Regions from separate parts of the Homo sapiens genome. Here region 2 is linked to region 1. Evidence: fine-mapped expression QTL. Tissue or cell type: prefrontal cortex. Region 1 holds a variant in brackets; the other region holds the start of a gene. All regions are shown on one strand. Distances are between the middles of the regions.

What was found. PIP is the estimated chance that this variant, and not a neighbour inherited with it, causes the effect.
Region 2: OR52E4 starts here. The variant in region 1 is fine-mapped to the expression of OR52E4 in prefrontal cortex (CommonMind, PIP 0.90).

Annotation. Positions count from the first base shown.
Region 1 is chr11:5,929,121-5,937,232 of GRCh38, forward strand. All of the region lies in intron 2 of LOC112268071 (a long non-coding RNA gene), which reads right to left. Among named protein-coding and RNA genes, the nearest start is that of OR56A3, 9.1 kb to the right of the region's middle. The variant CCCTCTT/C (reference allele first, on the strand shown) is at 4,873.
Region 2 is chr11:5,876,065-5,884,176 of GRCh38, forward strand. It overlaps OR52E4 (olfactory receptor family 52 subfamily E member 4), which reads left to right and starts at 4,565. Exons shown (of 2, transcript NM_001005165.2): 1 at 4,565-4,650. It overlaps LOC112268071 (a long non-coding RNA gene), which reads right to left. Exons shown (of 3, transcript XR_002957231.2): 3 at 5,031-5,365.

The DNA of each region.
Region 1 (8,112 bases):
AGTAGCCGATCCGAGGCTCCAGGAGCCACGTGGTCTGAGTGACCCCAGAAGGATGCTTCTGCTGTCCCTCAGACCGTGGCCATAAAGGGAAGGGGATGGGGTCCACCCAGTCCAAAATCGTGCAAAACACCCCCTTAGGGTGCCTCCTGCGCAACCTCCCAACTTTACAACTCGACCAAGATTTAAAACGAAAGCGACTAATTTTCTTCTGCACAGTTGCCTGGCCGCAATATACCTTAGACAACCAATCTCGCTGGCCCCCCGAAGGCACACTCAACTTCAATATCCTAAACGACCTTACCAATTTTTGTCAGAAGCAAGGCAAATGGTCAGAAATCAAATATGTTCAAGGGTTCTGGGACCTTCACTCTCCACCAGACCTCTGCGCCCCGTGTTCACTAGTGCAAGTCCTTTTAGCTAAAACCTCTCCCAAAACCTCTCCTGATCCGGACAAAGATGATCTTTCTCCTCTCTCAGACCCCATAGATAACTTATCTTCCCCTCCCCTCCAAACTGCAGCCCATGCTCTGCCGCCACCATACGCTTCCCCACCCCCCTCGGCTCCACCTTCAGGTCACGCACCGCCCACTTCCTCACGGGTCCCTCCTTCGCCAATCACGCCACCTCCTCCTCCACCTCCATCATCTCCTCCTCCTCCACCACTACCCTCACCTGCCCCTCCCAAGTCCCCTGTGGCCGCACACACCCAGGCCAGGCCGGCACTCCTTGCCCCGCTGCGCGAAGTGGCTGGAGCAGAAGGCATTGTTCGAGTTCATGTGCCTTTCTCCCTCGTTGATTTGTCCAAAATAGAAAGACACCTAGGCTCTTTCTCCACCAACCCTACTCTTTTCACAAAAGAATTTCACTATCTCTGTCAGGTTTATGACCTCACTTGGCACGATATCCATATTATTCTTACCTCCACCCTTTCCCCTGAGGAAAGAGAACGCATTCTAATTGCAGCACGGCAGCATGCCAATCAATTACATCTAACAGACCCCAACGTACCCGTTGGAACACAGGCGGTTCCATCCACCGATCCAGAGTGGGATTACCAAGTTGGGCAAGCAGGGCGTCGCCGCCGGGACATAATGGTTCAATGCCTCCTGGCAGGGATGCAGGTGGCCTCCAATAAATCAGTCAACTTTGACAAACTAAAGGAAATTGTACAATACCCGGATGAAAATCCGGCAGTCTTCCTAAATCGGCTGACTGATGCCTTAGTCCACTATACCCGCCTAGATCCGGCCTCCCCTGCAGGGGCAACCATCTTGGCAACATATTTTATTTCCCAGTCAGCAAGAGATATTAGAAAAAAACTAAAATAGGCGGAGGAAGGCCTCCAAACCCCTATTCAGGACTTAGTAAAGCTGGCGTTCAAAGTTTTTAATTCCCGAGAGGAGGCGGCTGAGGTACAACAACAGGCAAGATTAAAACAAAAAGTTCAGCTCCAAACCCAGGCCCTGGCGGCTGCCGTGCAACCGGCATTCCCTAAGAGCCCAGGCAAGAAAGGTAGAGGTACAATCTCCCGGGCCCCATCTGGCGCCTGCTTCAAGTGCGGCAACTCGGGACACTGGGCCAGCCGGTGCCCTAGCCAACAGCAACCGTCCTGCCTGCCTTACAACTGTTTCAAGTGCGGCAATCCAGGTCATTGGGCAAAGCAGTGCCCAAACCCCAAGCCGCCAATGCGCCCGTGCCCTAACTGCCGACAAATGGGGCACTGGAGGTCAGACTGCCCCGGCCTCAGAGCGGCCGCTGTGTCTCCACATGGCGACCCCTCCCCGGATGGTGAAGGCGCCTTCCAGCTCCTCCAACTGGACGATGACTGAAGAGGCCCAGACTCGGGAACCCCTCTCACCCTTGCCAAGCTCAGGGTAATGCTTCAGGTAGCAGGTAAGTCCATTTCCTTTTTACTGGACCCAGGGGCTACCTACTCTGTTTTGCCATCTTTTAGTGGGCCCAGCCAACCCTCCTCAATCTCTGTTATGGGGATTGATGGCACTCCCTCCACCTACCGCCAGACACCTTCACTGCCCTGCCGCCTAGACCACTCGTTCTTCACACACTCTTTCCTCATCATCCCTTCATGTCCAGTCCCTCTCCTAGGGAGAGATCTCCTGACCAAGTTAGGAGCCTCAGTAGTCTTCCGGCCCGGCCCATCCACCCACCTAGCTCTTCTCCTACCCCTCCTCTCAGCCGATACAGCAGCCCAGGCCTCTCCAACCCTGCCATTAGTCTTCCCTACCCCCGTTGACCCCAAAGTTTGGGACACCAACACTCCCGTTGTTGCCACACACCATAAGCCAGTCCTTATTAAGTTAAAGGACCCACTCAAGTTCCCTGCCCGACCTCAGTTCCCCATTTCCTTAGAGCACCGTCGAGGACTAAAACCCATTATTATTCGGCTTCTACAACAACACATCCTAATTACCACTAATTCTCCTTGCAATACTCCTATTCTGCCGGTACGAAAAGCCTCTGGGACTTACCGTCTAGTACAAGATCTTCGCCTCATCAACGAGGCAGTCATCCCTACAGTCCCGGTAGTTCCTAATCCATACACACTCCTCTCTCGCATCCCCCCCAACAGGTCTCACTTCACTGTTCTGGACCTTAAAGATGCCTTTTTCTCTATCCCACTAGACCCCGCTTGTTACTTCCTCTTTGCTTTCACATGGGAGGACCCAGACACTGGCGTCTCTAAACAACTCACCTGGACGGTTCTGCTACAGGGGTTTAGAGACAGCCCTCATTTCTTTGGACAGGCACTGGCCCAAGACCTCGCTCGCTGCCCTTTGGAGGCCAGTACTGTTATCCAATATGTTGATGACCTGCTCCTTTGCAGCCCCTCTGAGACAGATTGCCTTAAGGACACTTGTACTCTCTTAAACTTCCTAGGAAACTGAGGCTATAGAGTCACCCCGTCCAAAGCCCAACTATGTACCTCTAAAGTCACCTACTTAGGTATACGTCTCACCCCAAACTCAAAAGGCCTAACCTCAGACAGAATCAGCCTTTTACAAAATCTTCAGCCTCCACAAGATGCTGAAGATATTCTCTCCTTCTTGGGGCTAGTCGGCTTTTTCAGACATTGGGTCCCCAATTTCGGAGTCCTAGCAAGGCCCCTGTATCAGGCCACCAAACAGACCCCCCTTGGCCCACTGTCTGAGCCAAAACTAGTAGCCAATCTTTTCAATAAGCTTAAAAATTGCCTCATAACAGCCCCAGTCCTCTCACTCCCAAACCCGCTACGCCCATTCCATCTCTTTACCGATGAGCGGGAAAAGGTTGCTACAGGGCTCCTGGCCCAACTGGTAGGAAGAACACACCAGCCAGTAGCCTACCTTTCCAAGCAGCTCGAGCCCACTGTCCAGGGCTGGCAGCCGTGCCTGCAGGCTTTGGCTGCGGCAGCGAAACTCACCAAAGAGGCTCTTAAGCTTACCTTAGGGCACCCTCTCACTGTTTTCTCCTCACATAGGCTACAAGACTTACTCTCACACAAGTGCCTGAGTCACCTGACCCCCTCCAGACTCCAGCTATTTCATCTCCTGTTTATTGAAAACCCACACATCACACTTACTACCTCTCCAACTTTAAACCCAGCTACCCTCCTCCCCTGCCCAGAAAAGGACCCTGCATCCTTACACTCGTGTTCTTAAATCCTATCAACCCTACCCCCCGCGCACCTAAGCCTCCAAGACAACCCCATCCTAGATCCCCATCAGACCCTGTCTGTGGATGGTAGCTCCATCTCCACGCCGCAGGGCCAACGACGAGCGGCATACGCCGTGGTCACCTCATCTCAAGTAGTTGAGGCCAAACCACTTCCCACTGGTATAACCTCCCAGAAGGCAGAACTCATAGCTCTTACTAGAGCTCTAATTCTATCTAAAAACAAAAAAGTAAACATATACACTGATTCCAAGTATGCCTACTTAATAGCGCATACCTACTCCATTCTCTGGCAGGAACGGGGGTTCCTTACCACTAAAGGTACTCCTATTGTCAATGGACCCCTCATTGAGAAACTCATCCAGGTGCTAAAAGCCCCCACACAGGTAGCCATCATCCATTGCAAAAGCCACCAAAATTCTAAAGACCCTATATCATTAGGCAACAATTTCGCCAACACCACTGCCCGGGCCACGGCCCTCTTGGCCCCTTCCCCCACTCCTGTGTGCTTCCTCTCTCCTGCTTACACTCCCGATTACTCCCCTGAAGAGCTAGTCCACCTCATGGGTCACTCAGGAGTAAAAACCAACTCCAATGAGCGCTTTCATAGCCACACCCCTAACAAGAGTAATCAGGGCTGGATATTCGTGGATGATAGAGTAGTTCTCCCGTGCAGTCAGAAGAAACTCATCCTCACCGACATGCACCGTTCGTTACATATAGGCCCAAAGGCTTTATATAACTTTCTTGAACCCATAATCTACCATCCTTCCCTTTATTCCTTACTGAAGCAAATACATCAGGAATGCCATGTTTGCACAGTGGCAAACCCTCAGGGAAAACTTAAGCTCCCAGGTCCCTGTCACCAGCTAAGAGAACATCAGCCAGGAGAAGACTGGCAAGTTGACTTCACCCACATGCCTAGACACAAAAAGTTCCGTTATCGCTCCTGGTCCTTCAGATTTCAGCTCCTCAGACTCCTCTACAGGGAAAGCCCTCCCTGACTCCCCCAGCCAAGATGGGTCTCTTTGTTTTCAGATGAGATCGGCAGCTTGGGGCCAGGTGCAGTGGATCACGCCTGTAATCCCAGGACTTTGAGAGGCCGAGGCGGGCAGATCACCTGAGATCGGGAGTTCAAGACACAGCCTGAGCAACATGAAGAAACCCCGTCTCTACTAAAAATACAAAATTAGGAGCTCT[CCCTCTT/C]CCTCTCCCTCTCCCTCTCCCCACGGTCTCCCTCTCCCTCTCTTTCCACGGTCTCCCTCTCATGCTGAGCCGAAGCTGGACTGTACTGCTGCCATCTTGGCTCACTGCAACCTCCCTGCCTGATTCTCCTGACTCAGCCTGCCGAGTGCCTGCGATTGCAGGCTCGCGCCGCCACGCCTGACTGGTTTTGGTGGAGACGGGGTTTCGCCGTGTTGGCCAGGCCGGTCTCCAGTCCCTAACCGCAGGTGATCCGCCAGCCTCGGCCTCCCGAGGTGCCGGGATTGCAGACGGAGTCTCGTTCACTCAGTGCTCAATGGTGCCCAGGCTGGAGTGCAGTGGCGTGATCTCGGCTCGCTACAACCTCCACCTCCCAGCTGCCTGCCTTGGCCTCCCAAAGTGCCAAGATTGCAGCCTCTGCCCGGCTGCCACGCCGTCTGGGAAGTGAGGAGCGTCTCTGCCTGGCCGCCCATCGTCTGGGATGTGAGGAGCCCCTCTGCCTGGCTGCCCAGTCTGGAAAGTGAGGAGCGTCTCCGCCCGGCCGCCATCCCACCTAGGAAGTGAGGAGCACCTCTTCCTGGCTGCCATCACATCTAGGAAGTGAGGAGCGTCTCTGCCCGGCCGCCCATCGTCTGAGATGTGGGGAGCGCCTCTGCCCCGCCACCCCGTCTGGGATGTGAGGAGCACCTCTGCCCGGCCACCACCCCGTCTGGGAGGTGTGCCCAACAGCTCATTGAGAACGGGCCAAGATGACAATGGAGGCTTTGTGGATAGAAGGGCGGGAAAGGTGGGGAAAAGATTGAGAAATCGGATGGTTGCCGTGTCTGTGTAGAAAGAAGTAGACATGGGAGACTTTTCATTATGTTCTGTACTAAGAAAACTTCTTCTGCCGTGGGATCCTGTTGATCTGTGACCTTACCCCCAACCCTGTGCTCTCTGAAACATGTGCTGTGTTCACTCAGGGTTAAATGGATTAAGGGCGGTGCAAGATGTGCTTTGTTAAACAGATGCTTGAAGGCAGCATGCTCGTTAAGAGTCATCACCACTCCCTAATCTCAAGTACCCAGGGACACAAACACTGCGGAAGGCCGCGGGGTCCTCTGCCTAGGAAAACCAGAGACCTTTGTTCACTTGTTTATCTGCTGACCTTCCCTCCACTATTGTCCTATGACCCTGCCAAATCTCCCTCTGTGAGAAACACCCGAGAATTATCAATAAAAAATAAATAAATTAAAAAAAAAAAAAAAGTTCCGTTATCTTCTTACTCTAGTAGATACTTTCTCAGGTTGGATTGAAGCCTATCCCACCACTCATGAAACAGCAGAGGTGGTAGCTTCAACCCTCATTGAACACATAATCCCGAGATTTGGCCTCCCTCGGACAATCCAATCTGAAAATGGGCCTGCTTTTATCTCCAAGATAGTCAAACAGGTGACAACCACACTTGGCGTTAACTGGAAGCTACACACTCCATACCATCCACAGTCTTCTGGAAAAGTGGAACGCGCCAACGGCCTTGTCAAACAACACCTAATCAAACTGGCTCTGGAGACACGCCAATCGTGGGTAACCTTACTTCCCTTTGCCCTCGCGCGGCTCCGGGCAGCACCCCGAAGCCCCACAGGACTTAGCCCCTTTGAACTCCTATAGGGGCGCCCCTTCCTCTTTCAAGAGCTCCCTGTGAATACCCCACCTCTTAGCACGTACCTGCCCTACCTCACCCTGTTAAGGGAGCTGCTAAGAGAGCACGCCGACCGCAGCCTTCCAAAGCCCGGACCACTCGGCCCAGACAGTCTGGCCATAATAACCCCAGGAGATCAGGTACTAGTAAAAGACCTCCAGGCAAGAGGCCTCTCCCCCCGGTGGAAAGGCCCCATACGGTAATTCTTACAACACTGACGGCAGCTAAACTTATAGGCCTTCCTTCCTGGTACCATATTTCCCATCTTAAGAGGGCACCTACACAAGATCAGGCCACTTGGACTGTCACCTCCCTCTCCCCAACCAAACTGAAACTCTCTAAATCAAATACCGCATGAATTCTCCGTGTGACAGGCTCCAACAATTTATTCAAGTTCTTCTCGAGGAAAGCTGGTCATTCCCTACTTTTGCTAACACACTTCACTGGCCTGAAAATCTGTTAGCCTATATAGACGAACTAGTGTGGCAAGGCTCCCTCCAGAACTTTCACCAACAAGAAGTTCGCTTTTTTTGTCTTGTCACTCTTCTTACTCTTGCACACCAGTCGTAGTAGACAAGCCCCCTCTCAGACTCCCTCTCACTGGGTTTTTTTCCTCACTGAGAATTGGAATTCCGGACAGGCAGTCTCCTCTAGACTAGTAGCCACGGCAGCATGCCCGCCAGCAAGGTGCCAGGCACCCATAACTTTCCTAGGTCTAAAATTCTCCTCCTTAGGCCCAAATACAAAAAACCCAGCGCTTTGCTTCCTGTATGATCAAAGTAACTCCAAATGCAATACCACCTGGGTCAAAGAAAATGTAGGCTGCCTGTGGCACTGGTGCAATATCCATGAGGCATCCATTTATAGAAAGGATACCATGTTCTCTGTCAACACTTCAGGAGGCTTTAACGGATTTAACCTCCAAATCTCTGACCCTTGAGACCCCCGCTGGGCCTCCGGTATAGATGGAGGACTATATGAGCACAGAACTTTTATGTATCCGGTAGCTAAGATCCGCATTGCCAGGACCCTTAAAACCACTGTCACAGGGTTATCCGACTTAGCCTCCTCAATCCAGTCGGCCGAGAAGGCTTGCCAACCAGCTTCAACTGGCAGCTGACCAGGCCATGTCCTCCCCCTTCTCGTGGTTAACTTTAATCTCAGAAGGTACACAACTGCTCCAATCCACAGGGGTACAAAACCTCTCCCACTGCTTCCTCTGTGCGGCCCTTGGAAGACCTCCCTTAGTGGCAGTTCCTCTCCCTACCCCCTTTAATTATACAAGAAATTCATCCACCCCTATACCACCGGTCCCGAAAGGACAGGTCCCACTATTCTCAGACCCTACAAGACACAAGTTCCCGTTCTGTTACTCCATCCCAAATGCCTCTTGGTGTAACCAGACCAGGATGCTTACCAGTGCCCCGGCACCACCCGGAGGCTACTTCTGGTGTAACTCCATGCTAACTAAAGTTCTTAACTCAACTGGTAATCACACCTTGTGCTTACCCGTCTCTCTCATCCCTAGCCTGACCCTATATAGTCAGGACGAACTT
Region 2 (8,112 bases), 53 kb before region 1:
TATGTCAATTTTGGCCATATGCAGGAGGGTTACTTAAGCCCAGGATTTCAAGACCAGCCTAGGCAACTTATGGAGACCCTGTTTCTATAAAAAATAATAATAAAATTTTTTAAATTATATTTTTATATACTAATAAAAAATTTATAAATTAAAATCTTGAAAATTATATATTTTTAAATGGCATCGATCATTAAAAAGTCAGGAAACAACAGGTGCTGGAGAGGATGTGGAGAAATAGGAACACTTTTACACTGTTGGTGGCACTGTAAACTAGTTCAACCATTGTGGAAGTCAGTGTGGCGATTCCTCAGGGATCTAGAACTAGAAATACCATTTGACCCAGCAATCCCATTACTGGGTACATACCCAAAGGATTATAAATCATGCTGCTATAAAGACACATGCACACGTATGTTTATTGCGGCACTATTCACAATAGCAAAGACTTGGAACCAAGCCAAATGTCCAACAATGATAGACTGGATGAAGAAAATGTGGCACATATACACCATGGAATACTATGCAGCCATAAAAATGATGAGTTCATGTCCTTTGTAGGGACATGGATGAAGCTGGAAACCATCATTCTCAGCAAACTATCGCAAGGACAAAAAAACCAAACACTGCATGTTCTCACTCATAGGTGGGAATTGAACAATGAAAACACATGGACACAGGAAGCGGAACGTCACACACCGGGGCCTATTGTGGGGTGGGGGCAGCGGGGAGGGATAGCATTAGGAGATATACCTAATGTTAAATGATGAGTTAATGGGTGCAGCACACAATCATGGCACATTTATACATATGTAACAAACCTGCACATTGTGCACATGTACCCTAAAACTTAAAGTATAATAAAAATAAATAAATAAAATAAATAAATAAATAAATAAATGGCATCACAGAACATCAAATGCTTTGACCTAACTCTAACAAATGATATGCAAAACTTCTAAAATAAAAGCATAATAATCCTTCAAAGGAACTTTTTAAATACATAAATACATGAAAAGATATACCTAGTTCATGATTTGGAATAATCAATAACCTTTTAAAAACATTCTCTAAAATTGAACTATATATTCAATGCAATAAATATTTTAATGAATTTGTTTGCTTATTTGTCCTCTTGTTTTTGTTTTCAAAGTGTTATAAACATTTTAAAAGAAATTGGCTGGAAATCCTGAAGAACAAAATTTTAGGATTTATGTTATTATATTCCATAATTTATTTTATAGTATCACTTATGAAAACTGTGAAATACTTGTACAAGAACAGACAAAAAGCAGAACCACACAGTCCAAACACAAAAATACACATGTATAAATGTATAATTTATGACAAACAGCTTTTTAATAAATGAAGCAAGATCAAATGAATAGCCAAAGTAAATCAATTATATATTGAAAAATAATTGCCTCTATGTCACTGCCCTTTCAATGTGATAGTTAATATCCTCTCATCAAGGGGTTAATCTTGACAATGTGAGCAAGATGGACTACTAAAATGTTCCAGCTCTTAGTTGCCTCACACCGATAGCCAGAACAATGAATTAATAATTACATTTTAATGAAAGTAACTGAAGGAGAGGAGTGCTCATTTGTGAGACCCTGAGCCTAGAACCCTGGCTCCACAGCCACTCCAAGCCACTGTACTTCGAGCCCAGCGCTGCTGCAGCTGCTTATAGGCCATGTCAAATCTGAGGGATTCTGTCAGCTGAGTCCCCTCACTGCGGGAAAAATTAAAAATAAGAGGACCCCAAAAGCCCTTGACACTAAGGACATAAACAAATTGTGCCACCACTACTGCTGTGCCACTACAAACTTCTACAGTCTAAGCCACTGAGGCACCCACAGTTATTGCTGACATTAAACTCAGCTCAGGAAGCTGCACGGAGACTATGCTACACCCATCTGGAAACAGAGTCACCACACTCTTCCCAACTGGCACACTAAAACCCAACTGCAGGTGATAGTTGTCCTGTATAAAAACCACTCTGGAAAGTTTGGAGATAAGCAGATACACAGGCATCAATATAGAGACACAAGAAACATGAAAAGGCAAAGACATATGATACCACCAAAGGAACATAACACTGTAGTAACAGACTCCAGTAAAAAGAAAATCAACAAATTGCCAAAGAAAAAAAATCAAAATAATGATGCTGAGAAGACTCAATAAAATACAAGAATATACAGCATAGACAATTCAATAAAATCAGGAAAACAATTCATGAAACAAATGAGAAATTCAACAGAAGATAAAAATCATAAAAATCAAATAGAAATCCTGTAGCTGAAGAATTCAATGAATAAGTTTTCAAGTTACAATAGAGAGATTCAATAGCAGACTTGGTCAAGCAGAAGAATCTGTTGACAGGTTGTTTGAAATAAGTCAAAGAAAAACAAAAGAAGGATTTAAAAAAGTAAAGAAATAATGGTGTTCCTTAATGGGATGCCATTAAGTAAACAAATATTTGTATTATGAGAATTCTAGAAGGAGAAGAGAAAGAAAAGGACAAAGGAAACCTATTTAATAAAATAACAGCTGAAAACTTTCCAAATATGAAGAGAGATGTAGATATCCAGATCCGAAAGCTCAAAATCCCCTATGTAAATTCAACTCAAGAAGGTCCTCCCCGAGGCATTATAATGTCAAACTGTCAAAAGTCCAAGACAAAAAGTCTCTAGGCCTTTAGGCTATTTGGCATGAGGAAACAGTGAAAATAGTGGGAAAATATATCCAATCCTTCAACACTTTTCAGAAGTAATGTCCTCAGGGAACAGCTGGGTTTCTGTTTCAAAAGGAAGAGAAACAGAACATCAGAAGTGGTTTAAGGCCAAAAATAATATCACTGCTCATAAAAAATTGATTCTAGAAGTCACAGTGAAATAGTCTTGGGAATAGGAGAGGGGTAGGTACAGTGACCAATTAGGAGATATATGATTATATGATATGACCCTAACAGAACTAGAATTTTTATGTTTTAAAAATAATGTAATTCAATGCCAGAACACCTCCTACAATCAAAGCACTATACTAAGTGAACTGAAGGATAAAGTTGACTTAAACATCACTCTAATATCAATCCATAAAATAATGGAAGACAGAAAACACAAAACCAACACAAAATAAAATTTGCCTGTTATAATAGTGGCACACACTGATGTGAAAATACAAAAGACACAAAGATTATATCAGATTGATTCATATGAAAGGTCATTAAGAAGTATAGGACAATTGAGAAAGTGCTGAAGCAAAGTAGAAATGAGATGAAGTTATTTCATATGGAGGACTTTTGATTATCAAAGACAAGATGTGTGTTCGGGAGTCATGTAGTATAATGAAAGTATAAAAAGTTGATTGGGTATTGAGTGAAGGACTTTGGCAACAATGGTGTTTGCCCCTTATTACATAAAGTCTACAGTATACAATGGAGAATGTAGGGGTCATGGGAAGGAATTTTAAGCAGAAATTGGATAGAGTCAGACTTGATTTGGGAAGATAAATGTGGATACAGTAAGGAAGATGGACACAATGAGGGAGAAACAGGAACCTCAGGAGTTACTTTCTCATTAATCAAAAGAGAAGTAATGAACACAAGAACGTGGCAGATCAAACCAGAATCTCTCTTGGACCACAGACGACATTGCTGTTTCTGTGCTAACAACTCAAAATAGTCTGAACTTAGGAGGCAAAAAATACCAACTAATTGTCTAATGTACTTATTTTTCCCTCAGTCTATTTCTAACTATAGTCAGGAAAACCAGGCTCTGCAGCATGTCCTGGTAGTACTATCGGGTCTACTATGTCATCATTCAGGAAGGGAGCCTCTCAGGAAACACTACCTCTGCTCTGGCTGGAAGGGACAATATAATATGTTTTATAAGGAAAACGTAGAATTTTCTTCACTTTCTGCCAAAAGAGCTGAAACACATGAAAGCCTCTCTTCAAAGACTATCTGTTCACCATTAGTTATAGACTGAGAAGGAGAATCTTGGTGGGTTGGAAGAAAGTTGCTGCTATTATCTGCAGGCATGCACACTGCCAATAAACAGAGTTGTACCACAGAGTCTAATTTGTCTATTTGAGATGTCTTCTCCTTCATCTTTTGAAGCCTCAATTGTAACAGCTGTGAAACTACATCAGGATTTACACAAACATATTAAAACAGAAAAGTTGCTGAGAACAGTTTCATGGTCACACTGTGAAGAGTTAATGGTCCAAAATCAATGCTTTCATGGCTCCTGAGGGAAGCGGAATTAACATCATTCCCCAAACAGATTCCTCTCTCTTCAGGATAGCTCCCTTCCCATCCTTTCATAACACATCTGCTCCCCTGAGCTAAGGAGTTATATCTAGCATGGTGTTTCTCTGCAGATGCAGTGAAGAGGAATAAAGACTTACTATGACTTAATGACCCTCGAGTCCATGTTTCTGCCCAGAGGATTCCGAAGACTAGGCTCGGGGATTCTGGGACATGCCTGGTCATAGGGATGCTCTCACTCACTATAAAGTTGCCTCCACTTTACCAAGCAGGCTTGTTGCTCAGAGGCTTCAAGGGGAACCTAATCACGGTCTTTAAGAACCTGGACTCATGCTCCAATTCTGCTCCAAGTGAGGGCTGGGAGAAGAAATATTACAGAGGTAAGAATGCTTGTGCAGGAGAAGTGAAAAGATACACAGGAGAGAAGAAGAGGGCAAATGAGGATAGAGAGGCCAGATTCTTCCACTTTTCTGAGGAATTATCCTAAGCACCATTGCACCATTTTCTTCACAGAGGAACACAACAGAGCACATGGGATTGGTGAGGGCAGTGGTGTACCAATTAGTAATGCACAGAATTTCTGTCTGTGTATCTCTCTCTCTCCCCCCTTTCTCTCTGCCCCTCTCTCTTACACACACATACACTCATACACACACATTCTCACAGAGTACACTGTTCACAGCCGAAACACCACAAATACAGTCATATAGTAGCATGGCCATACTTGTTGTCAATAAGACAAAAGGATGTTATTGCAGACTTCTTTTGTATGTGTTTATTTAAGGTGGTGGGTGGGTATCACATGTCAATATTCAAATACAATTACATAGGCATTAACATATTTGGTCTGTAAAGTTTTATTCTCTGTTTCCCTCATTGTCTGAGTGAATTTAATGTTGCCAGTTGTAACTTGGTTCCCTATATCCCTACTACTTTATGGAACCATCCCCAAGCCATTTTTATTGTAAGCACAATACCCCTGCTAGATCAGCCGGACTGAACCGCCAATGGCACAGTTATGGAAGAGCCTGAATGAAGGTATTTATCCACTTTATCCATTCATCAACTGCTTTGGTCTCACCAAGATTGGGAAAGCTGTAAGAATAAGAGGAGAAAATTGTTTCTTTTCTAAATGAGCAGTATTGGGTCATATTTGTATCCATAAAAATCTAGACATAAATATTAATGTCTGACTCTGTGCCATTTCTTCACTTTGGCCTCTTCTGAGCCATTCCTCCTTTATCTAATCTTAGGCCAAACTGTGACATAATTTGGACTTTTTACAATGAAATAACTTCTTTCTGCTAACAGGTGAATTATTTTAGCTATCTTGCATTTAAATAAACAAAATATTTGGGAGCATTAATAAAATAAGTAAGTATAATTTGTTGAGGATACACTATGCACTAGCACCTATACAAACATTGGTCTTATTTATCATTAAAATAAACCACATTAGTTATAATTTATCATCTCATTTTTACAGGAGAAAAAAAAACTGATCTATCTGGTTAAAGAATCTGTCCAAGGGTCTCAAGCAAGTAAATGGTTTAGCAGGTTTTCCAGCCATGTCTGAAAAGTTTTAAGGTCCACAGAAGACTTCTGTAATATTCTACTACAGTCAGCAAAAAAATAAAAATCCAACAAAGTAAAAAAAATCACAAGTTCAAAATGTGAACTTTGGTGAGCACAATAAGAGAAAAATTGCTAATTGTTATGAATTTGTCTTTTCAGATGGACTCCAGTAGGGATCTTTGTCAATGTGCATATCTAGAGAAGAACAAACTTAATAATTTGCCCTCAAAAAATGATCTTGAGGTTATTGGCCATACACTGTCTGCTACTGTGGCATATAGTTATAACAGAAAGAAGGCAAGAATTCAGGTAAAACTGTGAGAGGGTGGATGTGCTGGCAGCTTTGAATTTTACTGTCAGAGAAGCGTCCTCTTTGCCATCTCCCTGGGAATGTTTTTCTCAGCTGGCAAAGTATCATGTTGAGACACAGCCACCCTTAAGATTGGGCTGACTCTGGACTGTAAATCTCACAACACATCATCCTAGCTATTTCCTCAGACTCTCCCAGGTGAAATCACAAAAACCACTGCCCTCTGATTTTTCAGCCTGGCATCTTTTCCTCAATACTGGCAAACATTATGTTCTTTTTTCAATTTTCTCTCAGCTTCTCGGGGACCAAGAAATGCTCTTGTTCTTCTCATACAGAATGGGGAATTATTAACTCCTTTGCTTGTGTACTTCTGCTGTAAAATAGCTACCTGGCAAAGTTACAGGACAACTGATGTATGCAGCCACGTACATAATAAAACATGATTTCTCTCTCTACTCCTATCTCTCCAACCTTCTCCGTCTCTCTCTCTCTCTCTCTCTCTCACTCTCTGTCTCTGTCACACACACTCACACACAAACAAAAGCACACTTATTACAAACCCCAACTCTGATTCAATTAAATGCTGAACAACTGGGAACCAACATTCATGTGGCAGTTTTGAGAGTATTACAATGATTACCCCTGGTTCTCAACTCTTAGTTGCAGCTATTCTCTTTGTAGAAATAAGGCCAGTACATGCATAAATATTATACAATCCAGGTTACATTAGTTGCTACAGAGTTGTACAGTGTCTTTAGGGATGCAAAGTTAAAATAAGGTAATTTTCCTTGTTATTGTCAAGGAATCAATGAAGAGTCCTTAAAACATTTTAATTTCAATATTAAAATTTGCTAAATATTTGATCTGTTTACACCTGAAGGTAGGCACAATTTTGGGACATGGGAATTTTTTTTATGTTACTAACTGATGTTATAGATTGTAAGGAAGATAAACATAATTTGGCAGATACACACAAGGCATTTTATTGGAAGGATATCAGGGAATCAGAATGACAGGATCTTGGAGAAACTGGATTGTTCATGAAGATTTAGAAGCATCAAAATTAGTAATTAATCCATAATAGAAATGCACTTATCAGTTTAGCTGAGTTAGAACCAGGAAAGTTCTAACAGAGACTGATTAACTACACTTATGTGATGTCACTGTATAAGATCCTTACGTTTATATTATAATAAAACATAGAAAGTGGTAGACAGTAGTACTTCTCCTTTGTACTAGGAATCTTTGTCTCATCTAGAAACTATTGAGATACTCAGAATTTTAGTTTCTCTGAATTACATCCATAATATTTATATTATTAGACATTAGAGCAAAATTTAAATATTTAATATTAAAATAATATTAACAAACTATTATATAAAACATAATTTGGTACTTTTTGTTAAAATCACTGTTTTTCAAGAAATTAGTTGTAAAAATGGTATCATTTTCCTTTGCAAATATTTTTATTGTCTAAGTTAAGATAATAGAGCTGAAATCTCACAACATCATTTACAATTTCATTTAATCTGTTATGGTAGCACCTCATATAACCTCTGGAAAATTTCACTATGTACTTATGAGAGAATGAGAGTGAGAATGGCTAAAAATTTTCTATTATAAAAATAGTTTTGAGCTTGTGAACTTCTGGAAAGGTACTTAGAAAACCCCAGAGATCTCAAGACCACACTTCAAAGAACACATGGAATGGTGATTTCCCAAAAAGTAAAGAAGGGCTACTTAGGAAAGTAATGGAAGGGAATGCCGTAATATAAATATGCATTGCATTATGAAATTTTTCCCATTCTTTCAAATATCTCAAAGATTACAAAACATAAAGCCATAAGCAATATTGCCTATGATGGATCTCAGAACAATAATCTGTGTTGAGAGGCTTCCTCGATTATCCTCTGGAAAGAAGTGAGTCTTGAATGTTTGTAAATTAACCACCTATACC